Regions from separate parts of the Homo sapiens genome. Here regions 1 and 3 are each linked to region 2. Evidence: fine-mapped QTL for protein levels in blood plasma. Region 2 holds a variant in brackets. A gene starts in each other region. All regions are shown on their forward strands.

Region 1 (10,240 bases), not on the chromosome of region 2:
AACTCTCAGCCCTTTCCCTGGAGAAGCACAAAATGCTGCCTTGGATGGTATGTGCCAGATAAGACACATGAGGAGCCAGGCACAGTGGCTCATGCCTGTAATCCCAGCAATTTGGGAGGCTGAAGCAGGAGGATTGCTTGAGCCCAGGAGTTCGAGATCAGCTAGGCAACATGGTAAGACATGAACTCTCCAAAAAAATTAGCCAGGCATGTTGTTCCGCACCTTTAGTCCCAGCTACTCGGGAGGCCGAGGTGAGAAGATCATTTGAGCCCAGGAGGTTGAGGATGCAGTGAGCCATGATTGCACCACTGCATTCCAGCCTGGATGACAGAGTGAGATCCTGTCTCAAAAAGCAAACACACACACACACGAAAGCAAGAAGCAAGACAGCTGTGGAATTCCAGAGATAGGAGACAGGCAAAGAACCTGACCTGGTGCAACGAAGATAAAGGTAACGGAGCCAGATGAGGAGGCTTAAATGCCTTACAAGAGTTAGGCGTTCAAGTTACAAGTCTTGGCCAGGCGCGGTGGCTCACGCTTGTAATCCCAGCACTTTGGGAGGCTGAGGCAGGCGGATCACGAGGTCAGGAGATCAAGACCATTCTGGCCAACATGATGAAACCCCGTCTCTACTAAAAATACAAAAAATTAGCCCGGCGTGGTGGCATGTGCATGTAGTCCCAGCTACTCAGGAGGCTGAGGCAGGAGAATCACTTGAACCTGGGAGGTGGAGGTTGCAGTGAGCCAAGATCACACCACTGTACTCCAACCTGGTGACAGAGTGAGACTCCGTCTCAAAAAAAAAAAAAAAAAAAGAGTTCAGTCTTGATGGGCTTCTCTGTGAAGAGACCCTAAAGGATTTGAGCAGAGAAAAGACCAGTTGAAAGCTATGTTTAGGCCAGATGCAGTGACTTACACCTGTAATCCCAGCAATTTGGTAGGCCAGGGCAGGAGGAGCCCAGGAGTTCAAGACCAGCCTGAGCAAATAGCAAGACCCCATGTCTACAAAATTTTTTTTAATTAGCTGGGAATGATGACGCATGCCTGCGATACCAGCTACTCAGGAGGCTGAGGCAGGAGGATCACTTGAGCCCAGGAGGTCAAGGCTAAAGTCAGCCACGATCAAGCCACTGCATTCCAGCCTGGGTGGCAGAGTGAGACCCTGTTTCAAAAAGAAAGAAAGAAAAAAAAAAGCTATGTTTAACCTGATAGAGGATAGAGTGTAGGGTGGCATGGGGCAAGAGCTATGAGAGTGTAATAGGGAGGCTGAGAACACCCTCATGGGAGGTGATGAGGGATTCAATGTGGGGAGGAACTCACAGATTCAGGAGCCACTTAAGTAAAAGTTGAGAAAATTTGATGTCTTTCTGGGTGCAAGATTAAAGCTTTCCAGCCTGGCTGACCTAGTAGATGTTATTTTTTCCACTGATGGAGACAAGAAAGTCAAAGGGAGATGAATTTGAGGAATATTGTGAGATGAGCGTGAGGCTGGTTGAATTTGAGCTAAAACCAAGATATTCAAGTGAACATAGGATCTGGAGGCATCAGTTTTGGAGGCAACTTCTGGCAGAGTGAAGAGCTGATTCCCTGAAAGGGGATGGGCATTGTTAGGAAAGCCACAGGGAGAAAAAAAGACCAAGGCTTGAATCTTGGAAAATGCTACACTCCATATCAGACCATCCACTAGCACTCTTCCACACTCTACTGTAATCCCAATTCACCAGACACTCCAACACCTCTATCCCTTCCTGCTGCTGAGGGAACTTATAAATATTGAGTTACTCTGAGCTGGTCTTTTTTTTTTTTTTTTTTTGAGATGGAGTTTCGCTCTTATTGCCCGGGTTGGAGTACAGTGGCACGATCTCAGCTCACCACAACCTCCACCTCCCAGGTTCAAGTAATTCTCCTGCCTCAGCCCCCCGAGTAGCTGAGATTATAGGCATGCGCCACCACGCCCGGCTAATTTTGTATTTTTAGCAGAGTTGGGGTTTCTCCATGTTGGTCAGGCTGGTCTTGAACTTCCGACCTCAGGTGATCCACCAGCCTCAGCCTCTCAACATGCTGGGATTTCAGGCGTGAACCACCGCGCCCGGCCTCTGAGCCAGTCTTAACACCTAGTCAGCTTGTTCTCCCATTAAATCCTGAGAACAGACCTGTGAGGTAGATCTTCCAGACCCATTTTATACAGGCAAAACTGAGACCCTGAGAGATGAATCAATTCATAGCATGTGAAGTAGTTTCCCTGATTTCCATTCAGTAGGGCACCTACTATGTGCCAAGATTGGGGAAAATAATGATATTGGGCCCTACCCTCTAGAGGCCACAATCTGGACAGAGATAAGGTAGGCACGTAAATAAGGATAAAGTAAGGTGAAGCCCAGCAGCTCCAGGAGACGTAGAGATAAGGTCTTCTACAGTCCAAAGGGCTGAAGGCATCACAGGCAGCTTCCTGAAGGAGGTAGGCACTGATGCAAGTCAGGCCTGGAGGATCTGGGGGGACGTGCTATAACAATGACTCTTGTCCCACAGGTACTGTGTCCGGGGATTGCAGCCGTTCGGGCAGGGGGCAAGGGCTGCTGTGGTGCTGGGTGCTGTGGAAACCGCTGCAGGGTAAGATCCAGATTAAGAAGGAATTCAGGGCTGGGGGTGGTGTCTCATGCCTGTAATCCCAACACTTTAGCAGGCTGAGGTGGGAGTACGGCTTGAGCCAGGAGTTCTAGACCAGCCCAGGAAACATGGCAAGATCCCTATCTCTACTAACAATACAAAAATTAGCCGGGCGTGGTGGCAAGCACCTGCAATCTCGGCTACTTGGGAGGCTGAGGTGGGAGGGCCGCTTGAGCCCAGGAGGTCCAGGCTGCAGTAAGCAGTGATTTAAAAAAAAAAAAAAAAAAAAAAAAAGAAGAGAAAAGATACAGAAATTAGCCAGGCGTGGTGGCGGGCACCTGTAATCCCAGCTACTCAGGAGGCTGAGGCAGGAAAATCACTTGAACCCTGGAGGCAGAGGTTGCAATGGGCCGAGATCACACCATTGCACTCCAGCCTGGGCAACAAGAGTGAAACTCTGTCTCAAAAAAAAGAAAAGAAAAGATACAGAAATTAGCCTGGTGTGGTGGTGGGCGCCTGTAATCCCAGCTACTCAGGAGGCTGAGGCAGGAGATTACGGTGAGCCAAGATTGTGCCATTGCATTCCAGCCTGGGCAACAAGAGCAAAACTCCGCCTCAAAAAAAATGTATTTTTATTTTATTTTACATTTATTTATCTTATTTATTTTAGACATAGTCTTGGTCTGTCACCCAGGCTGGAGTACAGTGGCACGATCTTGGCTCACTGCAGCTTCCGCCTCCCTAGTTCAAGCCATTCTTGTTCTTCCAGCCTCCCAAGTAGCTGGGATTACAGGCGCCTGCCACCACACCCAGCTAATTTTTATATTTTTAGTAGAGACGGGGTTTCACTGTTGGCCAGAGTGGTCTGAAACTCCTGGCCTCAGGCGATCTGCCCCCCTTGGCCTCCCAAAGTGCTGGGATTACAGGTGTGAGATATCGTGCCCAGCCTCGAGTCAGGTTTAAAATAAATTTCCCTTCAAACCCCGGGCTTGCAGTTAGGCTAACCTGAAAGCCAGCGGCCGCCGAGATTCACTGGGGTTGTAGTTCCCCCCTCTCCCCTTCACCCGCCTACCCCTCAGGATCATTGAGATCTGAGATTTGTGGGTGCCAGGGAAGGGTGGGGTGGGGCCTGGGAGTCCGCAGAGGAGCTTGTGTAGCTAGGAATTCCATAGAGAGTGCTGTGGTTCTGCAAGGACAGGTGCAGAAACAGAGTCCGAATTTCTAATTTTTTTTTTTTTTTTTCTTTTTGAGACGGGGTCTGGCTCTGTCGCCCAGGCTGGAGTGCAGTGGTGCGATCTCGGCTCATTGCAACCTCCGCCTCCCATGTTCAAGCTATTCTCCTGCCTCAGCCTCGGGCATGTGCCACCACACCCGGCTAATTTTTGTATTTTCAGTAAAGACAAGGTTTCTCCATGTTGGCCAGGCTGGTCTTGAACTCTCGACCTCAGGAGATCCACCCGCCTCAGCCTCCCAAAGTGCTGAGATTACAGGGGTGAGCCACCGCGCCCGGCATTAAAAAATACATTTTAACAACCCGACTGGAGCAGATTTCGATAATGCGTGGGGGCTGGCGCTGAGCGTCGTCACCCACAGGTGGGGAGATTGGGCCTTACCTCCCCTTCCACACCACATCCAGATGCTGCGCTCGGTCTTCTCCTCGGCGTTCGGGGTGCTTGGTGCCATCTACTGCCTCTCGGTGTCTGGAGCTGGGCTCCGAAATGGACCCAGATGCTTAATGAACGGCGAGTGGGGCTACCACTTCGAAGACACCGCGTAAGGTTTAGCCTGTATTCGTGTCCTCCATTCTCTGCCTCTTCCCTCCCGCCCTTCCCCCGTGGACTGGGACACCTGGGCGGGACTCGACTTCGAGGGCACTCGCTCCACGTGGGCTACCTGGGCCTTAGCAAATCCCCTGGGACGTATTCTTGGGGGCGGGGTGGCGCACGCGCACGCTGCCTTCTCCCACGTGGCCTCACCCCTCCCACAGGGGAGCTTACTTGCTCAACCGCACTCTATGGGATCGGTGCGAGGCGCCCCCTCGCGTGGTCCCCTGGAATGTGACGCTCTTCTCGCTGCTGGTGGCCGCCTCCTGCCTGGAGATAGTACTGTGTGGGATCCAGCTGGTGAACGCGACCATTGGTGTCTTCTGCGGCGATTGCAGGAAAAAACAGGTGAAATTTCTTGCGGTGGAGTTGTAGAGGGAACCTGCCTGGTCCTGGCTGCGTTCTCACCTTCTCTTTTCCGCAGGACACACCTCACTGAGGCTCCACTGACCGCCGGGTTACACCTGCTCCTTCCTGGACGCTCACTCCCTTGCTCGCTAGAATAAACTGCTTTGCGCTCTCTTCTCTGTCTGAGATTGTGCCTTCTGTAAGGAGGAGTGTGCGAGAGGCTACGGATACACCTGGCCTTTGGGGCCCCTGCACCCCACTTGTACTTTCTTAACGAATAGATACTGAGCTATTTGGTTGCGCTGGAAATAAGGACGGTAAACAAGACAGACAAGTTTTATTCTCTCAAAGAACTTGGCATTCCAAGAGTGGAAGATAGGCAATTTTTAAAAGAAGCAAAAAATTATTTCAATAGGTAATAAGCACTTTTTTTTTTTTTTTTTGACAGGGTCTCGCTGTCACTCAGGCTGGAAGGCCGTGGTACGATCTCGGTTCACTGCATCCTCCACCTCCTGGGCTCAAGCAATCCTCCCGTCTCAGCCTCCCAAGTAGCTGGGACCATAGGCATATGCCACCATGCCTTGCTAACTTTTTTGTATTTTTTGTAGAGACGAGGTTGCCCAGGCTGGTCTCGAACTCCTGAGCAAAAGTAATCCTCCCACTTCAGGCTCCCAAAGTATTGGGATTACAGGCTTGAGCCACCGTGCGTGGCCGATAAGCACTTTTTAAAAGCATGTTGGTAATGGGATTGATATTGACTTATGGAGAGACTCTCTTTTATGACAGGGAAAATTTGAGAAAATGAAATTTGAGCTAAGATCAGGAAGGCTTGCTAACCATCTGGATATTTGGGGGATTATAGGCAGAGAGAACAGCAAGGACAAAGATCCTAAACAGGGATCAGTTCTGTAGGAGAAAATAATGAAAACTATGGAAAAGACACTGTAACCTCTTAAGCTCTAGAAAATGGAACTGTAAAGCCATTGTGGCCTTGTCACCTCCTAATTTGATAGAATTTTTTTTTTTTGCTTTTTTTGACAGGGTCTCACTTTGTCACTCAGGCTGGAGTGCAGTGGCACGATCTCGGCTCATTGCAGCCTCCACCTCCTGGGCTAAAGCAATCCTCCTGCCTCTGCCTCCTGAGTAGCTGGGACTACAGGCGCACACCACCATACCCCTGCTAATTTTTGTACTTTTTGTAGAGAGGGGATTTCACCATGTTGCCCAGGCTGGTCTCCAACTGCTGAGCTTAAACAATCCACCCACCTCAGCCTCCCAGAGTGCTGAGATTACAGCTGTGAGCCACCACATCTGGCCATAATTTGGTAGAATTTTCTTAATCTTAGGTCACTGGTTCAGAAAGGAGACAACCTAGGCACCTAATGGGGGCAGGGTGTCTGCAGACTCTCTCAGAAAGCCAGACTTCCTGGGCCCGCACGATGGTGCAAGCCGGTAATCCCAAAACTTTGGAAGGCTGAAGCCAGTGGATCACTTGAGGTCAGGAGTTTGAGACCAGCTTGGCCAACATGGGGAAACTCCATCTCTACTAAAAATACAAAAATTAGCTGGGCATGGTGGTGGGTACCAGTAGTCCCAACTACTCAGGAGGCTGAGGCAGAAGAATCGTTTGAACCCAGGAGGTGGAAGTTGCAGTGAGCCAAGATCATACCACTGCACTCCAGCCTGAGTGACAGAGTGAGACTCCAAAAAAAAAAAAAAAAAAAAAAGCCAGACTTCCATCACTTGTCTGAAAATTATCTGTTTAAGTGCGTTTTTCTCGAGTCCATAACTTTTCAGCAATCTACCATAGACCCCTGAGACCAAATCCAAATGTATGCCTCACCTAATGCTAAGTTAGGAGGGGAAAAGGAGACTCAGTTCCCCATCCCTTAAACAGGCGAGACCAGCCGGGCATGGTGTCTCACGCCTGTAATCCCAGCACTTTGGGAGGCCAAGGTGGGCGGATCATGAGGTCAGGAGATCGAGACCATCCTGGCTAACACGGTGAAACCCCGTCTCTACTAAAAATACAAAAAAAAAAAAAAAAAATTAGCCGGGCGTAGTGGCGGGCGCCTGTAGTCCCAGCTACTCGGGAGGCTGAGGCAGGAGAACGGCGTGAACCCGGGAGGCAGAGCTTGCAGTGAGCCGAGTGAGCCACTGCACTCCAGCCTGGGGGACAGAGCGATACTCCGTCTCAAATAAATAAATTAATAAATAAATAAATGAAATAAACAGGCGAGACCAAAGTCAACTCAGAGAAGCTTTAATAGCAAGAGGTGGGACTAGCCTCCTGGCCCGGGAGAGAGCGGCGGCGGCGGCGCCGTTCAACTGCGGCAGCAGAATAAGCGCGCGTCGTTCAGCGCAGTGTCATCGCCGAGGCCTCTAGGTCCCTGGATCTTGGTCTGCAGGCCGCACGCGCCCTTGGGGCAATGGTCACTCCAGTCTCCAAAGTCTCCCCAGCTCAGCCCAGGCCCCTGCAGTTCCTCGCCGTCTGAACAGCGGAAGCGCACGTTGTTCGCTGCTGTGTTGTCACCGAGGGTCGTGGGTGCCTCCACGCGAAGCGAGAAAGCCACTAGGTAGGCGCCGCCGCGACACCACAGCGGCTCACTCCATTCGCCCCAGCTGCAAGGCAAAGGGAGATGCGTTGCCTCTGCGGGCCCCCCATTCACCAAGCCCTTGAGACTTTCCAAGCCAAGTGCTGTGTATATGACCTGGTGGGCTGGGTGCTCCCCGACCTCCGCCGAGGAGCGGAGGAGGGGTCTTCCATCCACCCTTCGCCTCCCCGGTCTATACTGCCCCGTAGCTCTGGCGGAGCCAGCCTGCCTGTTGCGACGGAGTATGTAATAGAGGGTAAGGGACATACCATCACCCCAAGGGATCCTCGACCCCTGCGCCCCACCTTCCAGACTGGGACTCTACCACGTGCGTATTGCCTAGGACGTTCCCGCGCGCGCAGTGCAGCCTGATCCCATTCAGTGCAGTGTCGTCGCCAGGAATGCCTTGGGGAGGCTCCACCTGGGTATCGAGGAGAGGGGCAAGGGCGAGTCACGGAATTATCATCCTTGGCTCTATGGTCCCACGCATCTCCGCCCTCTCCAGGACCTACGCCTGAGCCCCAACCTTGAGCGAGAACCCGCTGGCGAAGAATCCATCGGGACACATCTCAGGCCAGGCCCAGTCGCCCCAGGGACCCCCGCTGGTCACTTCGATGACCGCCGTGTAGCCGTTCCGGCCATCTGTCTGTGCACATGTGAAACCAGTCGCCCGCAGAAGCAGCAGCAGCGGCAGCAGCTTGGCTCCTGCGCCCCGCTCCATCCTGTAGCGTCTGTGAATCAGGCCTCCTAAGCAGATTTATATCAGTTTGGCCTCTGTGAGGGCTCCGATTGCGGAAGGGCCTCCCAGATTAAGTGAAACCCAAAACTAATCCACTCCCGGAACCCTATTTCCTGCTCCCGGAGGCAGAGGCTCCCAGAGCTAGGGTAGGAGGGGCAGTGAGAGAGGGCGAATTAAAATAACCATCACCTACTGAATATTTACTATAGGCTACGAATTATGGTTAGCGCTTTGCAGTATTTTGTTTAACCCTCACAACAATTTTTGGGGGGTGAGAATTATCCTTCCTATTTTGTAGATGAGGGAACTGGCTCAAAAATGGCAAGCAACTTGCCTTAGGTTTACAGCCAAGCAAGCTGGGAAACATTCCAGCAGTGAGAGTGGAGACAGAGCAGAGACCAGGGCTAGGGATGGAAGTGACCTCCCGGGAGTCCCACCAGTGACGGGATGGGGCAAGAGCAACCCAGAGACCTCCAGGATGTGAGGGGACATCAGAGTGAGGATAGGACAAGAATCCTCGAACTGGAGAAGCTGAGAAAACTCCTGTCAGCTCAGAAGTCTCTTCCTCCTCTGAGAGGTCTTCTGAGAGCTCAGGGCCCTAACACCTTGAGAATCCGGGACACTCCTCCCTACCTTAGAAGAAGACATATACAAACAGAAATAATTCTTTTTTATTTTTATTTTTTGAGTCGAAGTCTCACTCTGTCGCCCAGTGGCGGCATCGCAGTGGCGCGATCTCGGCTCACTGCTACCTCCACCTCCTGGGTTCAAGCGATTCTCCTGCCTCAGCCTCCCGAGTAGCTGGGACTACAGGCGCGCGCCAAGACGCCGCCCCGCTAATTTTTGTATTTTTAGTAGAGACCGGGTTTCACCGTGTTGGCCAGGATGGTCTCTATCTCTTGACCTTGTGATCCGCCTGCCTCGGCCTCCCAAAGTGCTGGGATTACAGGCATGAGCCACCGCGCCCGGTCCAACAGGAATAACTCTAAGAAGTTTGGGGACAGGAGACTAAGAACCCCTAAGAAAAGATCATGCTGTTTCTTCCATTGCTTTCTGTATCCTTATATCCTTTCCTGGAATGCCTTTCCCCCTGTGACCACCAGATGGACTCCTAATTTGCAAAACAAAAAGCGAGAAAATCTGGCTAAGTATGTTTTTTGTTTGTTTGTTTGTTTGTTTGTTTTGAGACGAAGTCTCACTCTGTTGCCCAGGTTGGAGTGCAGTGACGCCATCTCGGCTCACTGCAACCTCTGCCTCCCGGGTTCAAGCGATTCTCTTCCCTTAACCTCCCGAGTAGCTGGGATTATAGGCGTTCGCCACCACGCCCGGCTAATTTGTATATTTTTAGTAGAGACGGGGTGTTGCCATGTTAGCCAGGCTGACCTCAGGTGATCCGCCCACCTCGGCCTCCCAAAGTGCTGGGATTACAGGCGTGAGCCACCGTGCCTGGCCTAAAAATGCCTGGCTAAATTTGTTAGGGGCCACAACCCCAGATTTACCTGCCCCTCATACACACTCCTTTGTTTATTCAATACCTATTTAGCAATAATATGTTTTGGCTTAAGCAATATTCCACTTGCTGTAAGCAAGAATAACAAGGCCCCTGTCATCAGAGGTCACATTCCAGTGGGGGAGACAGAGGATAAATTCTCCCCCAGTGGACCTTGAGCTCTGTGAAGGCACTTTTGTATTCTTGAAGCCTAGTACGTGCGGAAGTACTTAATAAAAGTTGGTGCAATGAATGATTGAAGAGCCAATCTGGAGTTTTGAAAATTAAACCACAAAAATGCAAAAGGATAAAGCCTGACGTACGTATATGATTGCAAGAGGTCATGTATCCAGGTCAAGACAAAGTCCCCTGGGAATAAGATAGAGAATTTAGAAGTGGGTGTTCCCGGCTGGGCGCGGTGGTTTACGCCTGTAATCCCAGCACTTTGGGAGGCCAAGTTGGGCGGATCACAAGGTCAGGAGTTCGAGACCAGCCTGTCCAGTATGGTGAAACCCTGTCTCTACTAAAAATGTAAAAATTAGCCGGCACTTTCCAGCCTGGGCGACAGAGCGAGACTTTGTCTCAAAAAACAAAAAAACAAAAAACAAACAAAAAAAAAAAGAGAGCGAGAGAGAAGTGG
Region 2 (10,319 bases):
CCCACACCCACTCCACTAGTGCTGAGTGAGAACCCAGAGAAGGTGCAGGTCAGCGTGAGGGTCTGTGTGGGTTTCACCAGCGTAGGACCAGACTCCTTCAAGGTGATCTGGGACAAGACCCCTGTGGAGAAAGCATAAGAAGATGAAGCCCACAAACAAGAAAACTGATGTTTCACCCGTGAAGGAGTCCCTGACCACAGCACTCACATGAAGGGATGGTCAGCAGCAGGAGCGTGGAGCAAAGTGTGTCCATGGTGGGGCACAGGAGTCACTGAGCTGGGACCTGTGCTCGGCTTTTTCAACCCAGAGGAGGGTGGAGCTGGTGGAGATTTGCATTCCCCTCATCTGTGCCCTACTCTATGGGATGGAGTCAGGTTTCAGGACTCAGGAGGGTGTTGCATCTGTGGTGAGGAGCAGTGATAGTAACATGATCAGTGTAATTCAGATGGCATTAATCTAAGGCTGGGCAAGTAGATTCTGAGTAGAAGTCTTTGCAGAAGTCATGATTATGAGGTCATGTTGGTCTTTTTGCAAGAACTATTTTATGATAGTTCTTGTTGTCAGGGATATGTGTGTAAGAATTCTCCCTACACTTCCTGAATCCATTTGTCAGGGTTTTAACATATGTGACTCCATTTTGATTCTTACAAATTTCACAATCTCATCCTAAAAGCACTGGTGGAGAAGGACAGTTTATGTAGCAGCCAATTAACTCTACATCCACCTCCCATTTTAACCAGACAAACATATTTCTTTCACTACAAATGGCCACTTGCATTTCCAGAGAAGCCTATACACAATACAGTGGATGGTCCTGAGCAAGGAGAGTGAAGAAAGTCCCTTCAGCCTCTTCCACATGGCTGCAGTAGCCACAGCCTGAGCCCCAGCTGAGCTACAGGGAAAGGGCTTCAGCCCTTGAATTGAGGTCACGGAGACCACATTTACCTTTTCCAGGGAGCAGGAAAATCCAAAGGAAAAGTGAGAACGACAACTAAAAATAAAATAAATTAGAATCAAAAGAAGCACCAGATCAGTGTTATTAATTTGCATAATTTAGTGTCAGGAGAAGGGTCAGACAAAAAACTTGTGAGGGTCCCCATATTCTATATGACACTGACCATGGTCTACCATCTTTAGGCTGTTATCACCATCCTTAATGACTACTCTAAGGGAGACCCACTAAGGTCTCTGTTCTGAGTGTGATTGGAGAAGACTCAACAGGTCCCAGTGAGCTTCTACATGTCTCCAATTTTGGTGACTATGGTTGAGGGCTTTTCATCTCTGTGTCAATTTGTGTTTTGTCCATGTGAGAGTATGTCCTCAAAACACAATATTTTAAAAAAATATTTGGAGATGTCATTGGTAGGCACAGAATTCTAAAATTACAGAAGTTCCTTGGAGAAACTGTCAGACGGAGTTTTTTTCTTCTTTTTTCAATGCTTGCAGGAAAGCAGTCCTAACCTTTGCACTCCCCTCTGTGGTTGACTGATCAGTGGGTCCTGAGCACCCCCTGCAGCTCATTAGCCCAGGTGTTCCTGGAGGTTTGTGTCTCACACCGGCCTTTCCTCATGTGCTTCTCTTGCACAGTAATGTAGTGACGTGTCCTTGGTTTGCAGATTGCCCATTTGCAGAAACAGCATCTTCTTGACATTGTCTCTTGAGATGATAAATCAAAGACAAATAAATACTCTGTCGGACAAACAAATCCTGAGAAAATCTATTCCCAGCATATTAATCTTGCCATAGACGTTTTAGCAGAGTTTCTAGATGAGCAGCCATATGATATACATCCAATACCTGAATGTATCCAAAAGATAAAGATTGTCAACAATGAAAAAAATGAGGTTTAAATTTAGTTTTTGCATTTGTGTTTTCTTTATTACATAAATGTGTAAAGCAATTATAAAAATGTCAATATTACATTTTTATAGCTTATGTAATTACAAACTGATAAAATAAAAAAGGGATAGAAAAGAGGAATTAGACATATATAGTTATAATATCTCTGTTCTATATATAAAGGGGTAGGCTGGGCACGGTGGCTCATGCCTGTAATCCCAGTACTTTGGGAGGCCAGGTCAGGCAGATCACAAGGTCAGAAGATAGAGACCATCCTGGCTAACACGGTGAAAGCCTGTCTCTACTAAAGATACAAAAAATTATCCGGGCATGGTGGCAGGTGCCTGTAGTCCCAGCTACTTGGGAGGCTGAGGCAGGAGAATGGCGAGAACCCAGGAGGCAGAGCTTACAGTGATCTGAGATTGTGCCACTGCACTCCAGCCTGGGCGACAGAGTGAGACTCCGTCTCAAAAAAATAAAAAAGAAAAAGAAGTACTACATTTTTGAATTAGAATTCAATTATAGAAATGTCTTATTGTTATCCTTATGGTAACCAATAAGATATTCATCAATAATAATTAAATAATAAATTAATAGAAACAATACATATTATTGTAAAAAGACAAAACAACCATTATTGGACAAAAGGGTAATATCATTAAAAAATAATTCCTCATAGTTGACTAAAAAAAAAAAAGACCCAGCAATTATCTTTCTCCAAGAAAACTTCTTAACATATTCACAAAGAGAAGAAATAAGATGGAAAAATATAGACCATGAAAATATAAACCAAAGAAAACTTGAATAGCTATGTTAATTTCAGACAAAATAATCATAAAAAGAATACCTTTGCAACTCAAGTGAAATATTGCATAAAATAATAGGATCAACTTTTCCAAAATCCATTTTAAAAGACCTAATAAATGGATTTGGAACAGAAAATAGACTAACATGTATAGAACATGGAGAAATCAACACTCATTGTGATTGAGAAAACAAGCAATGATTAAATAGGTAAAGATATAAGAGTCCCAAATGGCACTATCAACCTACTTGATAAATTTTTATCTATAAAATATTCAACTAGAAAACTTCAGAAATACAAACTGTCATTTACCAGAAGAGAATAAAGGAACAAGACAACTGAATTCAAACTGATGGCCTTGATGGAATCTGGAAACAAACAAATATACGAAAGCAACAGCAAAGAGAGATTCTGTCCCAAAAAAAAGAAAAGAAGATATCCACTAAAAGGGACAAACTATGAAATATTTAAAATGGCTCATTCTGAGATATATATGAGTTACCAAGGCCCATGACACGACCCCAGGAATTCCTGAGAACACATGTCCAAAATGGCTTGATTACAGCTTGATTTTATATACTTTAGTGGGTCAGAAGTTACAGGCAGATATTAATCAACACATGTGAGCTATACCATTTATGCAGTCTAGAAAGGCAGGAAAGTTTATGCACAGGGTTCCAGGACATAGGAGAATTCAAAGATTTTCTGATTGGCAATTGGTTGAAATGTAAGGTAATACAATCATTACAACTGAGTGTCTGGATTAAGATAAGGGGTCCTGGAGATCATAGTTCTTATTATGTAGATGAAGCCTCCAGGTAGCAGATTTCATACAGAATAAATCATTAGGTTTTGCTATTTGTCATGTGATGCTATACTAGAATCAAGTTGTAATTTGATGTCTTTTTGCTATAGAAAGTGTTTACAGCAAAAATATAGTTTTGCCCGTCTTAAGATCTTTGTTGTAGTACTAATGCTGGCCACTGGTGCCTTAATTCCAAAGAGAGGAGCATGTAATGAGGCATGTCTGACCTCTCACTTTCCCATCATTGCTGGAACAAGTTTTAGAATTTACTTTGAAATTCCCTTGGCTGAGGGTTGAGTTCATTTAGTTGCTTGAGGAAGCTTAGAATTTTATTTTTCATTTACAATAGAAATTATTGGAAAAATGATAAATAAAATAAGGTCTGGTATTGAATATATTTACACTTATCAATGTAAATGTGTTAACACCATGTCTTATGATGATAGAGGATATTCATCTTAGGAGATACTTGGAGATGGGAACACACTGTATTAACTTTATAATTTTTTTATCTATAATTATTCTGAATCAAAAGTATATAAATGTAAAAAGACTATCATAAAAATACAAGTCACAACTGATAAAATAAGTTTCTGAAAATTATACAATTTCAATTACATTTATGAACATGTATTCTGGAAGAAAATATTGAAATTACCATCAAAAAATGACCAATGTTTATTTGTATAAAAAACATTTGAAGCACCAAATACTAAAATCAAGCAAAGAGAGTGCTATTTATATAGTTATTTTATTTTCTATAATATGATTTAAAAAGTGTTATTATAGGCATTTTATAAACCAGTAGTGAGCATAATTATGTTAATTTTTTCTCAATTTTGTGTCAATATCTTCTTAATTTCATATAGACATTTGTTACTGCATGTGTCATTTCCAAAATATTCAGCTATTATTTTTCATATTAATATGACTCCTTTGTTGGCCCTAGGCATTGCATTTTAATATGGACATTTATCAGTTCCCAAAATTAATACTTTTATAATTTCTTACACCTGTCTTTACTGGAATCTCTAAACATAAATTGTGAAGATTTCATTTTAATATGGACATTTATCAGTTCCCAAAATCAATACTTTCATAATTTCTTTAATCTCATAATCCTGTTATCTTTGTAAGCTGAGGATGTAAGTCACCTCAGGACCCTGTGATGATTGCATTAACTGTACAAATTGATTGTAAAACATGTGTGTTTGAACAATATGAAATCTGATTGTAAAACATGTGTGTTTGAACAATATGAAATCAGTGCACCTTGAAAAAGAACAGAACAACAGCGATTTTAGGAAACAAGGGAAGATAACCATAAGGTCTGACTGCCTG[C/T]GGGGTCGGGCAGAATAGAGCCATATTTTTCTTCTTGCAGAGAGCTTATAAACTGATGTGCAAGTAGGGAAGATATCACTAAATTCTTTCCCAGCAAGGAATATTAGTAATTAATACCCTGGGGAAGGAATATGTGATCTTTGCCCTGCTTTTTGCCCCTTAAAGCATGTGATCTTTGTGACCTACTCCCTGTTCGTACACCCCCTCTCCTTTTAAAATCCCTAATAAAAACTTGCTGGTGTTGCGGCTCAGGGGGCATCACGGACCTATCAATATGTGATGTCACCCCCGGTGGCCCAGCTGTAACATTCCTTTCTTTGTACTCTTTCTCTTTATTTCTCAGACCAGCCGACACTTACAGAAAATAGAAAGACCCTACATTGAAATATTGGGGGTGGGTTCCCCCGATAAATCACCTGAGGTCAGGAAGTCGAGACCAGCCTGTCCAACATGGTGAAACCCCATCTCTACAAAAGATACAAAAAAAGAAAATACAAAAATGAACACATATCCAAATATCAAACCAAAACATGAATTTATTTAATGTTATTTTAATTATATAATTGAATCGAATGTACTATTTTATAGTATAATGTAATATTCCAAAATGTTGTTGCTCTGTGTGATTGTTTCACTATCCTAATGCCAATTAACAAACATATTTAAAGGCAAGGTTTGGTAGAAATGAAAATAAATGCCATTCTTGCCAAATTAATTAATGTACAATGGTATTTATGTATAATCGCTGTGTTGGTTTGTTTGTCATTTATGCTGTTAGTATACTTTAAAATACCAATTATTAATACATCTAATAACAAGATAAACATCACTTTAAACACATTTTATTACATTATTGGTTAAATTAACATTGTGTTTTTATAAAGTCAGGATAAAATGTTCTTATTTAGAAATTAGGATTGTTTTCTACCATTGATTTTCCACAAATTTTCAATACAAATTCTAGATGTTTATTTGCCAACACGCCTGGATGCTAGAGAACATCCAGCAATATGGACCTGAAATCAGCCCAGGATCCCCAGAATGCACTCACAATGGCAGCTTGCTAGAGGGTTGTCTGAGAATTGCAAACACATTAGGGATTTGAACTTCATCATCAAAGCACTGGTGAGCCTCAGCGCTGAGCACACAGAGAGCAGCAGGAGCTGCAGAGCCCACTCTGTGGTACTTAGGAAAAGGACTGGATGTTGTGGGGTGATGTCTGCAGGACCCTAGAAAAGGGTGACGATGTCAGAGAGTCTGCGGATAGATGAACATATGCTTTTTTTTTTGAGATGGAGTTTCTCTCTGTCGCCCAGGCTGGAGTTAAGTGGCATTATCTCAGCTCACTGCAGCCTCTCACCCTGGGTTCAAGTGATTCTCCTGCCTCAGCCTCCCGAGTAGCTGGGATTACAGGTGCCCGACACCATGCCTGGCTAATTTTTCTATTTTTAGTAGAGACAGGGTTTTGCCATGTTGGCCACGCTGATCTCAAACTCGACCTCAGATGATCCACCCGTCTTGGCCTCCCAAAGTGCTGGGATTACAGGAGTGAGCCACTGCACCTGACCTACATGAGCATATTGTAAGGTGAACTGTTATCCTTCTAAACATGGTTGGGTTCAATGATCATGAAGAGAAGTGAACAGATTCACCAGACGTGGAGGAGACAAAATAAATAGATTTGTTGCTTCTTTGCCAGGAGACTGAGGAAGACAAAAGGATTTGACAGAAGGGAAGGTGGAGAAACAGTGTGAAGAGCAGAAGACCAGAACCCAACCAAAGTGGAGGAACTGACCCGTGAAAGTGGTGTTTCATCTCCACAAATGGCAGACAAAATGAAAGGAAACTTAACACCGTGACATTGTTGAGTTATTATTAGAAAAGCATTGACTGTAGTGTGACTGGCACAGCACAAGAAACAAAAACCCATGCGTGGAACCAGAGTTTGAATTAGGCATACACAATTTCTTATTATCAAAACACATTGAATTACTATTGCTATTATTATTCTAAAAATATGCAAGGTTAAAAGTTGAATTGAATTCCTATCCTAAGTTAATGATTTGTATGTGAAAGAAACCATGGGTTACAAGGAAGAAATAGTGAGAGATCGTGGGAAGACTTTTGCTTGACCAGCTCAGGAATCAGCTAGGTCTAAAAGCAAACGTCACCTTCCCCAGGCACCTGATGTGGAGCTGCCTCCTAAGAAAACCGTGGTGTCCTGAGTGATTGATTCCCTCGTGGTTACTGAAAGCCCCATGGTGGCCCCGAGCACTCCCTGTTGGCCCTGAACCCCTGGTGTCCTCAATGTTCTTCAGTGGCCATGAGTGTCTCCTGGTTGTCTTGTGGGCCTTTAGGTGGTCCTGTTACACCTGGTGGTTTCTGAGAATCTCTTGTTGGTCCTGAGTGTTTCCTGGTGGTCTGGAATGCACCCTTGTCATTCTGTGGCCCCTGCTTGTGCTGAGCGCCCCCTGGTGTCCTGAGCGCCCCCTGATGTCCTAAGTGTCTCCTGGTGTCCTGAGTGCCCCCTGCTGGTCTTGAGCACCCCTAGTGTTTTGAGCACCCTGCGGCATCCTGAGCACCTTCTGCTATCCTGAGTGTCTCCTAGTGGTTCTGAGTGTCCCCTAGTGGTTCTGAGCACCATTTACCACAAAGTCCCCTCTTGTCTTCCTGCAGGGAAGTTTGCGTCTAGACTCACCCATATGTCCCTCACTGTGTCTCTCACAGTAATACACTGCCTACTCCTCAGCTTTCCAGTAGATAATTTTAAGGGAGATTGTGATGTTAAGTGTTGTCCCCAGGAACTGTGAATCTTCTTTGTGCTGGAGCAGAGCACCACTGAGAACTTCCACTTGGGTCACTCATGGCTACCACCCACTCCAGCCCCTCTCCTCCAGCCATCAGGGCCCAATAAATGCTGCAGTCAGTGAAGGTGAATCTTGATGCTTTGCAGAAGAAGCTAAGAGAATAGCCAGGCTATTTTGCCAAAGACAAAAATATAGATCCAGTAAACCTTTGTGGTTTTCCAGGAATCTGGGGAAAAGGTGTGTGGATTAGGTGAAACACACACTTTTTAATCACAATGAAACTATTTTCATGGTGTTCAATGATAAACACATGGCATAAATAATTTGTGAAAACTCATAATTTTTTGAGACAAAGTGTTAACCTAAATGCATACAACTTCAAAAGTATTTAGCTGGTCATGAAACACAGAATAAAATGAAAGCTGTATAAAAATATCTAACAATGATAAACAGGTTTGTACTAATTTCACTGCAGAAAGGGGGGCATGAATATCAGAAACAAGTATCTTTGGAAATAATTTGATGTTGTGATTGTAAAATATAAATAAGCTGCATATAAGCACGGTATTCTAGTCGATAAACATATTTTCAACAAGGGTCAGTTTAATAATTCTAACACAATTTGTGTATTTTGAAATTGTGCACTAAGTAAATTAATGTCATATGATAGGAAAGGTTTCCTCATTTTTCAATGTCAGATTATGGACAGGCAAAGAAAGAAGGCTACGGATGTCTATGTGGATCTTGGTAGTGTGAAGAAACCAGTATCTTCTTAGGTTTAATGTAATATAGATACAGAAGATGAGATACATAAATACTTTAATTTTGAATTTTTGTGGGTAAATGGTATATGTGTATATTTATGGGGTACCTGACTTTGATATAGCATGAACTGCATAATACTCACATTATGATGAATGGTTCCTACATCCTTTCAAGTATTAATTCTTTGAGTTACCAACATTCCATTTATACACTTTTAGTTATTTTACAATCTATAATTATGTTATTAAGGATTATACTTAGTCTGTTGTGTTATCAAATACTATGTATTATTTGTTATTTCTAACCACTTTTTTCATCCATTGAGCATCCCCAATAATCCCCATCTACCATAGACCTTCCCAGCCTCTGGTGACCATCCTTTCACTCTCTATCTCCACGAGTTCAGTTGTCTTAATTTTTAACTTCCACAAATATATGAGAATATGTGAAGTTTGTCTTTCGGTTCTGGGATTATTTCAATTAATATAATGAACTCCAGTTTCATCCACGTTGTTGCAAATGAAAAAATCTCATTCTCTTTATGGCATAATATTAATCCATATGCTATATGTACCACATTTTATTTATCCATCATCTGTTAATGGGCAGTTAGGATGCTTTCAAATTTTGGCTATTACGAACAGTGCTATAACAAACATGGTAGTGCAAACAACATTTTTTTTTTGTGGGAGGGAGTACATGCCAGCAGCAGGATTGCTGGATTATATGACAACACTACTATTAGGTTTTGAGGAAACTCTAAACTGTTCTCCATAGTGGTTTTATTAACTTAAGTGCCCACCAACAGGTTATGAGTGTTCTCATTTCTCCATATCCTTCCCAGCATTTGTTTCTGTCTGGCTTTTGGATGAAATCATTTTAAAATCAGATGAGATGATATTTCACTGTAGTTTTGTTTTGCATTGTTCTGATGATCAGTGTTACACAGCACATTTTATATGCCTGTTTGCAATTTGAAAGTCTTATTTTAAGAAATAAATATCGCCTGCTTTTTATTCGGATTACTAGATATTTTTCCTATAGAGTTGTCTGAGATCCTGGTATATTCTGATCAATCCTTTGTCAGATGGGTAGTAATGTCTCTTTCTCTCACACTATGAAAGACATGATGTCCTCATTCACAGGTGCATTCCGGGATATACACACAGTATCAATGGAAAAGCAGTCATTAGGCAGTGAGGCCTTTGACAGCCTCTACCTGATGTCTCTTTTTCGGAGTCTGTATCTCTTAACATAACAACTGGATGTTATTCTGTACTCATTGCTGGCATGCTGTCACTGTTTTGTGTCAAAAATTCATCCACATTTTAATGCAATTAAATTTGTTCCTATTTAGAGGGTCAGTTTTTGAGGTTTGTCATGACCCAGAATGTTATTTTTTTTTTTTTAAGAAAATGGGTCTAGCAATATCTTGCAGGCTGGCCTTGAAATCCTGGGCTTGGGTGATCTTCCCACATTAGCATCCTCACTAGTTGAAAATACAGGCACATGGCACAGTGTCTAACTGATTATTCTTAAATTATGCTATTTCTCATTCTCTCTGCTAAACCAAGTGGATATTGCTCTTGTGGAGCTGTCAGCTTTTCATTAATTACTTACAGTAAAAATATATTATGTGTTTTAGGATAACTTCATGGTAAAAATTATTCACAGTCAACTGCAAATATAGTCACACAATTTCCAGAGTGCTGTATCTCTGTCTTTATGCCATGCATCTTTACCTATAAAAATATAACAGCCTCCACCTTAGTGCACATGAAATTATTCATATATCTCAAAGTGATACTCCTGCTTTAAGAGCATAAAACTGTTTGGGAATCGTGGACTTAAATAGTCTCATTATGCCTCTCCCAGGAATATCCCCAGAACCTCTGCCATACAAGTGAGCAGGGGTGAGAATAATTGGAGTCCTTCTTGGTTCTTGGTCAATAACGCA
Region 3 (10,104 bases), not on the chromosome of region 2:
TCATTGTCAGCACCAATGCCACTGTCCTCAGAGCATAAGGGGAGACCCTGCACCCCAGGGTCGCCACAGCCACTCGCCAGGCTCTCTAGCTGCCTCAGAGCCCTCAGGAGGCGTTCATCCACATTCCTTTTTGTGCTCAGCTTATTTTCCAAGTGGGTTGCAGTGGAGTGGAGGTAGCTGCTGGAGCCCTCCAGGAAGCTGCCGGTGAGCGAGGCCACTGTGCCATTGAGCACCTGCAGCTTGCTGACTGTGTACTGTAGCAGCTGTTGCAGGAGATTTGGCTGCTCCTGGGGCTCTCTTTTCTTCAAAGGCCAAGCCAGATCCTCCCTGACTTCCTGCAGGAGCACTTCTCCATCCTTGGAGATCTCCCCCAACAGCTGGCTGATCTCCTCAAAGCACAGCAGCAAGAAGCTGACCATGGGCTGCAGCAGCTCCCGGGTCTGGGTGGCCTGATGGATGATGCACAGAATTGCTTCATATTTGGAGAGGCTGGAGTGTAGATAGGTGTAAGCCTGCTGGTGGGCCTTTACCAGAGGCTCCGGGAAGTCCACTTTGCCTTCAGGCTCATGAGCAGGGTGGATGGTTTGGTAGCAGTGGCTCTGTGTGCTTGACGTGTGACATTTTGCTGTCCTTTTCCATTTGGAAGTATCTTGGGTACTACTTTCCTCACTCTCATCTCCAGAAAAGTCTGCCCCTTGTGATCCATGGGAACCCTGTGTCTTGAACGGAATATCCTTAGCCATGTGGCTTTGTGATTTGTTCAGCTGGGATGAAGAGGTTTTGGTTCCTGGGATCAGTCCTTCCATATCTTTCCTTTTGCCTGAAGCAGGATCTCCCATGAGCTGACAAAGACCTTTAGCTGTGGTTTGGTTCCTCCTGGGACTTGGCTGCTCCTCTGCCAGGCCCTCCCCAGCGTCATAGCAGGTGGAGTTTTTAACCAGCAAAGGGATGGAACCTCTTTCACTTCCGCCCTGACATCCTGGCCGAATTGCTTTGGGCTTTTTCAAGAACTGAATGCCACTCTTTGCAACGCTGTTTACAAGGTCACTGTGTGAAGGTGTACACCCCATGATTTCAGCTTGTAGTCATCTTCCACCCACCTTCACAATTTTCCAAGAATCATATTTGAAATAGGAACAAAAGGCAATCTTACTAGTCCATCCAGGCAATTTTCAGGCCAGAATTCTTTGAAGTCCATGGTACAATATCCTAAACTTGGAACCAGCTTTCTTTATTTTCTTGGTCCAAATGTGAAGAGGGAGTGGTACCTGTCGTCCTGTTGTTGTTCTAAGTTTGGAACCCTCTGCTGTTAGTGAGCAGCGGGACAATTCTGAAGGCTCCCAGCCTGGTGGATTACGGGCCTGTGTTTTGCTCGCGTCCTGACAGATGTGGATAGCAAGTGCAGCTTAAGCCTATTAGGTTAATCATGCCCTAGCCAGTCAGCACTCACAGTGTGTTCTAATATAGAACTTCTCAGCATTTACTATCTTGGGAAGCGGATTATTTTTGCACGTGCTCATGCTTTTAATTCTGTTCAGACGCCTGCCATATGAAACCTAGAGAAATGAGCCATAATTGCAAAGGCTCTGGAAGAGATGCATTTGTGGAAGAGAAGAGAGGGCTCGTTGATTACAGGCCCTGGAAGAGAAGTGACCTTCACGGTTTAATAAGGGCAAACCAGCCAAGTGTGCTCCAATCTGCTGTTATCAAGAAGCCCCCAAAACACACAATAGATAATAATTGAAGTAATGCATTATTGTTTGTGTGGCTTATAAAAACCCCGGGACTCTAGTATAGAGAATGTCTCTAAATAAGATAGTGAATGAAGAAGGCAGGTTGCTTTTCCTTTGCATTAGAAAATTGAGTTAGGTAGCAGGAAAGCTATCCCCCCCAGTTTGGATGGGGACAGCAGGAAAAGTCACTGCCATGTAAAGCTCAAGGCTGGTCACTACGCTCAGGAAGGCAATGCTTTCATGGGAAGAGGCTTCTTATTCAAACTTCTTCATAGGAAAACAAGCTAAAAACTGGGCAGTGGAGAGCCATTTCATTATTAAGAGGAGAACTCAAGGGGAAGCCCATTTTTCTGCTCAAACTGAGCATGGGGCTCCTGCCTGTGGCTAAGGGTAGCAGCTGCCCATTTAAAACCTCCTTTTAAACTTTATTTGCTGTCAGTAAAATCTAGAACAACAGCTTGGCCTAGAAAGACTGGAGTTTGAATCCTGAGTCTTTCTCCTGTTAGTTGAGGAAACTTCTGATAGTTTTTAAGCTTTCCTGAGGCAGAGCTCATCTTTGAAATGAGGACCACGGTACTTACCTCACAGAGCCATTGTGAGGATTGTCAATTAATACTTGGTAAGTGCTTGACCCAAGGTAGGTACTCAAAAACATGCAGTTTCAGCCAGGTGTGGTGACTCAACGCCTATAAATCTCGGCACTTTGGAAGGTTGAGGCAGGCTTATCATTTGAGCTCAGGAGTTTGAGACCAGCCTGAGCAACATGGTGAGGCTGTCTCTACTAAAAATACAAAAAATTAGCTGGGGATGTTGGCACCCACCTGTAATCCCAGCTACTCCGGAGGCTGAGGTGGGAGAATCACCTGAGCCTAGGAAGTTGAGACTGCAGTGAGCTGTAATAGTGCTATTGCAAGCTGGCCTGGACTTTGGAAGTGAGACCCTGTCTTCAAAAAAAAAAAAAAAAAAAAAGTTTCTTACTCCTTTCCCCCTGGAAGCTAGGGCACTTATAATAATGAAAGTCATAAGAATTTCATTGGTTTGCGTTGGTTTATTCCTGAATGGTCTGGAAATAATTGCCTATGATGCACTTAGAGCCCTCTGAATCTGGTGTTCTTTTTGCCCCCCACCCCCACCCTGTGCTCAATCCACTGCTGCCTCAGGATTTTTCTAAGGCCTCATTGTTTAATTTCTCGGCTCTCAAACACAATGATTCCCACTGTCTGCAGGAGGGAGAGGGGCTTTTATTTAACCATTTCCTATTTTTGGGCATCTAGGTTGTTGCCAATTTCGAAATTTTCCAAATAGAAAAACATTGCATTGAGCATCTCTGAGCATCCCCCTGAAGTTGCTGAGATTGGAGTTGCTATTCTGGCTTTCCAGTCTTCATTTTTTCCCACTTCATACAACCAACGAAAACAACACCATGGGTGTCAGGATGTCTCCAAAACAGGCAGGACTTAGAGCTGCCTCTTGTACTAGCTGGAGACTGGCCACTGGGGCTGTGTGCAGCGCCTGCTGCCTATCACAGCCCGATGCCCCAGAGTGCATCATTAATAAACTTCCCCGATCTGTTTATTTGAAGCAGAACTCAGGCGAGACACAAAGCCGAATCAGTGCCTGCAGGCGAGCTGCGTTAGGCATCAAGACGTTGCTTCATTTGTCACAGTGCTGAGCTGGCCCAGTAAACAAGGGTGCCACGTGGGAAGGCTTTCTTTTCCCTTCGGGTCATCCATTTAACAGAGTGAAAAACTCATCTGGAGGATGCTTTATGTAAATTCTTCTTCTCTTGGGATTTGGGCCCCTGCTTGACTCATCTTTGTGAAAAACTTTTATCTAAGTGACTAAAATTATTTCCAAACCAATGATCAAAATCAAAGTGTTTGCCTGGAGGATTTGCTGTCAGATAGCTCTGTACCTTACACATGAGTTTCCTTGACTATTCCAAGTAATTTAGGAAGCTCTTTATTCATTGCTGTTCATTTTTCATTAAGACCAACTTTTGTCTTTCTTTATTTTAAATTGGATTTGCTTCAAATGAAAAAAATTATTTTGAGTGGGCATATAAAAGTACAACTATTTTGGAAAACTGTTATTTAAAAATATACCCTGTGACCCGTCAATTCCACTCCTAAGAATTTACCCAAGAATATTGAACATAAAGGTCTGCAAAGAGACTGCTATAAGAAAATTTATAGTTCTACTCATAATCGCCTCAAATTGGAAACAACCCAAATGTTTATCAATAGGGAAATAGATAAATTTGATATAATTGTACAATGGAATACTACCTAGCAATGAAAGGAACAAACTAATGAAACGTAACAACAGCATAAATTTTAAAATCATTATGATGAGTGAAAGAAGCTAGACATTAAATAGTGCAAGGTGAAACATTCCATTTTTATGGAGTTCGGGAACAGGCAAGTAATCCATAGTTATATTAAATAATTAGAAAAGTGGTGAATCTCTAGGAAGAGCTATCAACTGGTTGTGGACATGAAGGAATTTTTTTTAGGGTATTGGAAATGTTCCACATCTTGACCTAGGTGGTAGTTATATGGGTATATACTATATAGGCAAAAATTCCTTGAGTTGTACAATGAAGTTGCACACTCTATGTTGCACTTGCGTGTACACACACACACAGACACACACACATCTAACTAAAATGCGGTATTGTATGCTTTGCTTGGCGCCTAAGAGGGTCCTAGCTATAATGCTCTAGGTCTTGGAAAAGGGTCCCTCTATTAGTTGTCTGTTTTTGTATAACTACTCCAAAAATAAGGAGCTTGAGATAACATCTCACAGTTTGTGTGGGTCAGGAATTTGGGGGCAACTCAAAAGGATCTCTCATGAGTTTGCAGTCAAGATGTCAGCCGGGATTGCAGTCATCTGAAGGCTTGACTGGGGTTGGATGATTCTCTTCAAGATAGCTCATCTACATGGCTGTGATAGCTCACTCACATGAAGGCCTCCATTCCTTGCTGGCTGTTTGCAGGAGGCCTCAGTTACATGTCACATGGACCCCTCTGTAGGGCTGCTCGAGTGTTCTTACAACAGAACAGCTGGCTTCCCCCAGAGCAAGTTCTAATCCCAAAGGTCACCTTCACTTCCTCCATATTCTATTCTGTAGAAGCTGGTCACTGTGTAGAGTCTACATTCAAGGAGAGAAAAATTAGGCTCCACCTTCAAAAGGTCACTTGAAAAAAAAAGATCAGGCCATATCATAGCTCAAACCAATGCATCTAGTGTAACTATACTAAACATTAGTTTATAAGGTACTAGTCTTTCCCCTTTAGCATGTTAAATAAATTCCATGCCATTTTGTTTGATGTGGCCCTGAACTAATTGATCAGCAAAAGATGGTTCTAGTGTGACATCAGTTTTGAGCCAAGACTGAAAGTCATTTAAACAATCTAAGAAATGTTTTACCCCTCAAAGTCTATCAGCCTCACCAAAGGGGCTCTCCTGTACCTTAAAAGCCAAGAAAAATTTCCCACTAGTCAAGGCCTACCTAGGACATACCTGGTCCTCCATATCTGAAGGAGTGCTTTTTGCAACACAGTTCCTTGGTCTGGATGTGAGATGAACAGGTAACAGAGAGATAAGCACGCATCTATTGTGGTGAGCTGGCGGGGAAGGAGGCCATGTTTGTGTCCCACGCACTTCATTAGGCACTCACTTTACATTTATCTTTTCAGAAGCTGGCCTTCCTTGCTTTGCTTTGGAGGATCATTAAAAGAACCATTCTGGCTACTGTTATATACCTTAGAGCAATCCATCCAGAGTTGCTCGTGGGATACACAATTCTATCAGAAACCAACATGTGATATCCAGGTGTCTGCCCTAAGTAGCTTTTGATTTGGTGATGATAGTAGAAACACCTGCCTGTTTTTCTTGAATCTTAGTGTGCATGGCGTATGGTCTGGATCAGTCATCACACAGGTACATTGTACCTCTGGAGGTTGACTCTTTAAACCTTTAAGATGCCTCTAAGTATCCTCCAAAGCAAATTTCATGTACACAAGGTAGTGTATGTTTAGAATCAAAGTATCCTAAATGTACCACAAGCTTGAAAAACATTTATCTAGTTTTTTTGTATGATAGAAAGTGTTTTATTGAAATAGATTCAATTCTTACATATAAATTAGAGTTTTTTTTTTAAAGGGTAGGCTAACTTTTGTAACTAACAATCCCCAAATATCAGTGACTTGGCACAGTAAGAGTTATTATTGTTTATACAATGCCAGTGTAGGTGTTGGGACATTCTCTTAAACAGCCCTACTCCACATGGTGACTCAGGGATTTAAGCCCTTCCATCTTGGAACATGAACATCTTCAATACATGACTTACAGGGCGGAAAGGGAAGAGAGTATGGGGAAGGTAGGTCAGATCCTTGACTGTCTTTGCATGGAGTTGACACCCATCATTTCTGCTTACATTCTGATGGGCAGGACTTATCACATGGCCCTACTTAGATGCAAAAAGGGCTGGGAAATGTAGTCCACAGGCCCTTTCTTCATTCCTACCTTTTCTTCTACTCCCCAAGCCTGTGAAATATCCTCAGATCTTTGCCTTTGTCCCCTAGGTATGAGTCTCTCCACCTGTAACAGAGGATTGTCCCTGTCCTCTGGAACTTAGCTCTGGTGTGAAGACAAGATAGCTTGGGGAAAGAAATGCTAGGCTTTGAGTCAGAACACAGCACACAGGGAAGGAATTAATTGAGAATTCTTCCCAAACTGTAAGACCACTGCTCAGCCATGTTATCAGAAGAACCTACGGGAAAACTGTGTCAATGTCCTTATGAACTGTGGGATGGTTTGCTAATTCCCTGTAGGGAAATAAGAGCAGACTCGAATTTCTTGACTTTTGACTGGTTGTTTATTTGTGTATTTACTTTTACATGTATGTACTGTCATGGGATCCTTAGGGTGTTGCTTTGCCAGCTGGAAACCTCTGTGGCTAGCAGTGCCTCTGTTTCAGTTTTGCTCATGCCTGCTGGGCTCCTTCTGCTCACTTGGCCCATCAGGTTGCGCGTGGCTCCTGCTTTCAGCCCAGATCCCATACCTGCCAGGGTGTGTGAGTGAGCAAGTGCAGGGTCCAGCCACTGCACACAGCCAGGTGTGCCGGCTGTGGTGGGGCAGGCAGCTCCAGGCGCCCGCACAGGTGCCGGCTCTGTGCAAGGCTGCAGCTGGACCAGACGTACTGCAAGCAGCTTCTGCTGTGGGCACCAGCATGTGGACAAGGGGAAAGCAATAACACCAGAAAGGTCAGATACCAGGAACCACAAAGCCCCAAAGAGGGAGTTACAGCATGTCATAGCCATGACTTGGGGATCCCTGAGGTCTGGGCTCCCAGAAGGGCTGCAGCTCTTCTCTCCTTCTCGTCACTCACAATGTGGTGAGTGGGGGGCATGTTTCAGGCCTGTTTGTGTTACAGCTCTTTCAGTCCCACCATTCAGCTGGTCCTGAGTTCTTGTCCCATGTCCAGGAAGAATGAGGCACGTGGATAACTGGAGAGTGAGCAAGATAGTAAGGAGCTTCATTGAATGACAGAATAGCTCTGAGGAGACCCGAAGTGAGTAGCTCGTTTCCACAGGCAGGCCATGCTGATGAGTGTCCAGGTCTCAGTGGAGAGGAGACCCATAGTGGGCAGCTCCTTTCCACAGGCAGGTCATCCTGACCAGTATGCAAGTGTGGCTGAATCCAGGGATTTTATGGGCTCAGAAGGGAGGAACTGTGTGATGATTGGTCCATGGGTGGCCATGGGTGTGCCTGGAAAAAGCACCATAAAGTTTCGCTCTGGGTCATGGACACCACCTGGGACTGAAAGCCTGGCCCCCAGGCTTCAGGCTGTCCCTGGTTTGAAAGTGGGGCTTCACTGGGGACCCACCCCTTCCCTCCTAGGAACCTGTCTGACTCCTGCCACCATCAACATGACCTCCATGGCACCCAGGCTGTTCACACCAAGGGGCACCTGCAGGCTTGCGTTAAGCCTCCCTCAGCCCTCCTGGCCTCCCTTCCTGAGCTCGTTGGTGCTCAAAGTTTCAGAAGGTGCCAAGGCAGTGGAGGATGTCTGGCATGTCAGTGCTGCCCTGAGCGTGTACACACCTAGCCGGGCCATGACAGCACCCAGGCTCAGGCTCTGAAATTGGAGCGGGTGCCAGGAGTTGGGAGAGGCCAGGGAGTAGGAGCAGGCACTTCCAAGCCTGTGGGAGCTTGGGGCTAGCCATGCCCCTGAGAGTACAGGGATGCCCGGGTCTGGAGCTGTGTTGATGTGGCTGCTGCTGCACTGGGGAGTGAGGTGCTCTTGACCAGCCAACTCGGTAGGGGGCGGGACTCCCACCTATTACTGCCCTCCTCTGGCTCGGTGGAACGCATAGCCCCAGCTTCACCTTCCCCACTGCAGCTGGCATCCCCACAGCAGCTGCTCCAAATAGGCCACCGCCACCATCAGTACCCTGGGCTTTGGAAAGATAGTGGCTGCTACTTGTACAAACTTCTCAAAATAGACTCTTCACTCTAGTTATTGCTTATGAATTTGTGAGTAGACATTTGTGTGTGTGGCAAATTTGAGGAAAGACATTGGGTCATATGAATTCATCATAGTGGGACATAAGTCAGAACTGAGTTTCACAATTTCCCAGGGTTATGCAACAAGAGTCAGACTAGCTCAGAGTCTTTGAAATATTGTAGACAACTCAAATATTGTGTGCATTTTTCTCAGAAAAAGTTACAGTATTTAAATTTTTATTGTATTATAACTTCGTCTAAAGTCTGCTCTTAGACTGAAGAGCAGATAGCAGATTCAGTTCCCCTTTACATTTATCCATAAGGATGGTTTGTCTGTGCTGAACGGGGGAATGGGACATCAACCACTGCTTATAACCCTGCTTATAACTTTTTAATGTTATTGCTGGGAAATTTCATTCCTGCTTGCTCATGACTTAAAAAAAAATTCTATTTATACATTTAGAATTACCATGACAAAAATAGGCCCCCTCCCCTAAAAAAAACCCATAAGTATTCATAATAATATTTAAAGGAGATAAATTACCCAAGACTGACTCTGAAGAATAACCCAGGGAGGTGATGATTAAAATACTTCGGCCTTGTGAAAGGAGCATATCTTTGGACCAGATTAATATCCTTTTGGCATTTATGCAGAACAGGGAGTTGATCTCTGTAGATTCTAATTTACAACAATGTCAACATTTAAAATAGACTACTAATAAAGACACCAAGAACAAACATGCCTCTAACCTGAGGTACATCAAATAACCCTTCTTTGGTGTTTTGACATTAAATGCGAATAAATAGAAAAAGGGAACCAATATTATGAACACATTTAAACTATGTTTAATAATAATTGTATGAGCAGCTCACATCATTAGCTTTTTTTTTTACTTTGTGCTGTTAGTGAGGTATAACTGACACATGTATTTAAAATATACAGTTTGATGAGTTTACACACACACATGCATCCATGAAACTTTTGCAGGACTTTTCCTTAGTTCAGTTAAAGACGGGGTTCTTTGTCCTATGGCCTTGAAAATTCAGGCTTGCAGACCATTGAGTAAGATGGGGTTTTATTGGGTAAAAAGAGAGAAAGGGGGGAAACAGACTCTCGCTAGACCAGAGTCCCTGCTAGAGCACTTCCCACCCACCGTTCGAATCCCAGGTTCCATACAGGAAGAGGAGGGACAGGGCTCCTCCCCGCTGCAAAGGGCATGAACTTCCCGAGGCTCCACCTCAGTGGGTAGGCTGGTTGGAGTTTCTCCAGGGACCCCCACCCACCTGGCTGTCTCAAAACCATCACCACAGTCAAGATAATAAACATATCCAACAGTCCCAAAAGTTTCCTCATGGCCCTTTGTAATCCCTCCCTATATACCCCTTCTCATCCACCTAGGCAATTGTTGATCATCTTTCTGTCACTATGGACTAGCTGGCATTGTTTGGGATTTAAAAATTTATTTTTGTAGAGAAAGGGTTTTACTTTGTCATCCAAGCTGGAGTGCAGTGGTGCCATCACAACTCACTGCAGTGTTGACTTCCTGGGCTCAAGTGACCCTCTCACCTCAGCTTCTTGAGTAGCTGGGACCACAGGCATGCACCATCATGCCTGGCTAATTTTTAAAGAGACAGGGTCTCGCTATGTTGTTGAGGCTAGTCTCAAACTCCTGGCCTCTAGTGATCCTCCCATCTTGGCCTCCCAAAGTGTTGGGAATATAGGCATGAGCCACTGTGCCCATCCTTGAATTTCATACAGATTTATTTTTTTGGTTTAGTTTCTTTTTCTCAGCATGGTTATACTGAGGGTCATTCATGTTACTGTATGCATCATTAGTTCAGACGTTTTCATTGCTGA

Alleles and levels. Positions count from the first base shown, and alleles are read on the strand shown. Strength reflects both the effect of a copy and how common the allele is.
For the plasma level of the protein whose gene starts at base 8,105 in region 1, allele T in region 2 goes with a lower level than allele C (strong association).
For the plasma level of the protein whose gene starts at base 1,332 in region 3, C is the low allele of the variant in region 2 and T is the other (strong association).

Evidence for each region. PIP is the chance, under the fine-mapping model, that this variant and not a neighbour inherited with it causes the effect. The UK Biobank Pharma Proteomics Project read protein levels with antibody pairs (Olink). The fine-mapping took linkage between variants from a reference panel, not from the people measured, so its PIPs are less certain.
Region 1: it holds the start of VMO1, and the variant in region 2 is fine-mapped to the plasma level of the VMO1 protein (UK Biobank, PIP above 0.99).
Region 3: PCARE starts here. The variant in region 2 is fine-mapped to the plasma level of the PCARE protein (UK Biobank, PIP above 0.99).

What each region holds. Positions count from the first base shown.
Region 1 is chr17:4,778,260-4,788,499 of GRCh38, forward strand. It overlaps VMO1 (vitelline membrane outer layer 1 homolog), which reads right to left and starts at 8,105. Exons shown (of 3, transcript NM_182566.3): 1 at 7,899-8,105; 2 at 7,678-7,793; 3 at 7,026-7,400. The coding sequence starts at 8,093. The coding sequence ends at 7,103. It overlaps TM4SF5 (transmembrane 4 L six family member 5), which reads left to right. Exons shown (of 5, transcript NM_003963.3): 2 at 2,530-2,610; 3 at 4,244-4,380; 4 at 4,595-4,778; 5 at 4,855-4,952. The coding sequence ends at 4,869.
Region 2 is chr14:106,038,093-106,048,411 of GRCh38, forward strand. It overlaps IGH, IGHV2-5, the pseudogene IGHVIII-5-1 and the pseudogene IGHVIII-5-2. Among named protein-coding and RNA genes, the nearest start is that of FAM30A, 130 kb to the left of the region's middle. The variant C/T (reference allele first, on the strand shown) is at 4,791.
Region 3 is chr2:29,073,192-29,083,295 of GRCh38, forward strand. It overlaps PCARE (photoreceptor cilium actin regulator), which reads right to left and starts at 1,332. Exons shown (of 2, transcript NM_001029883.3): 1 at 1-1,332. The coding sequence starts at 1,070. RefSeq lists enhancers at 7,523-8,023, 9,794-10,033.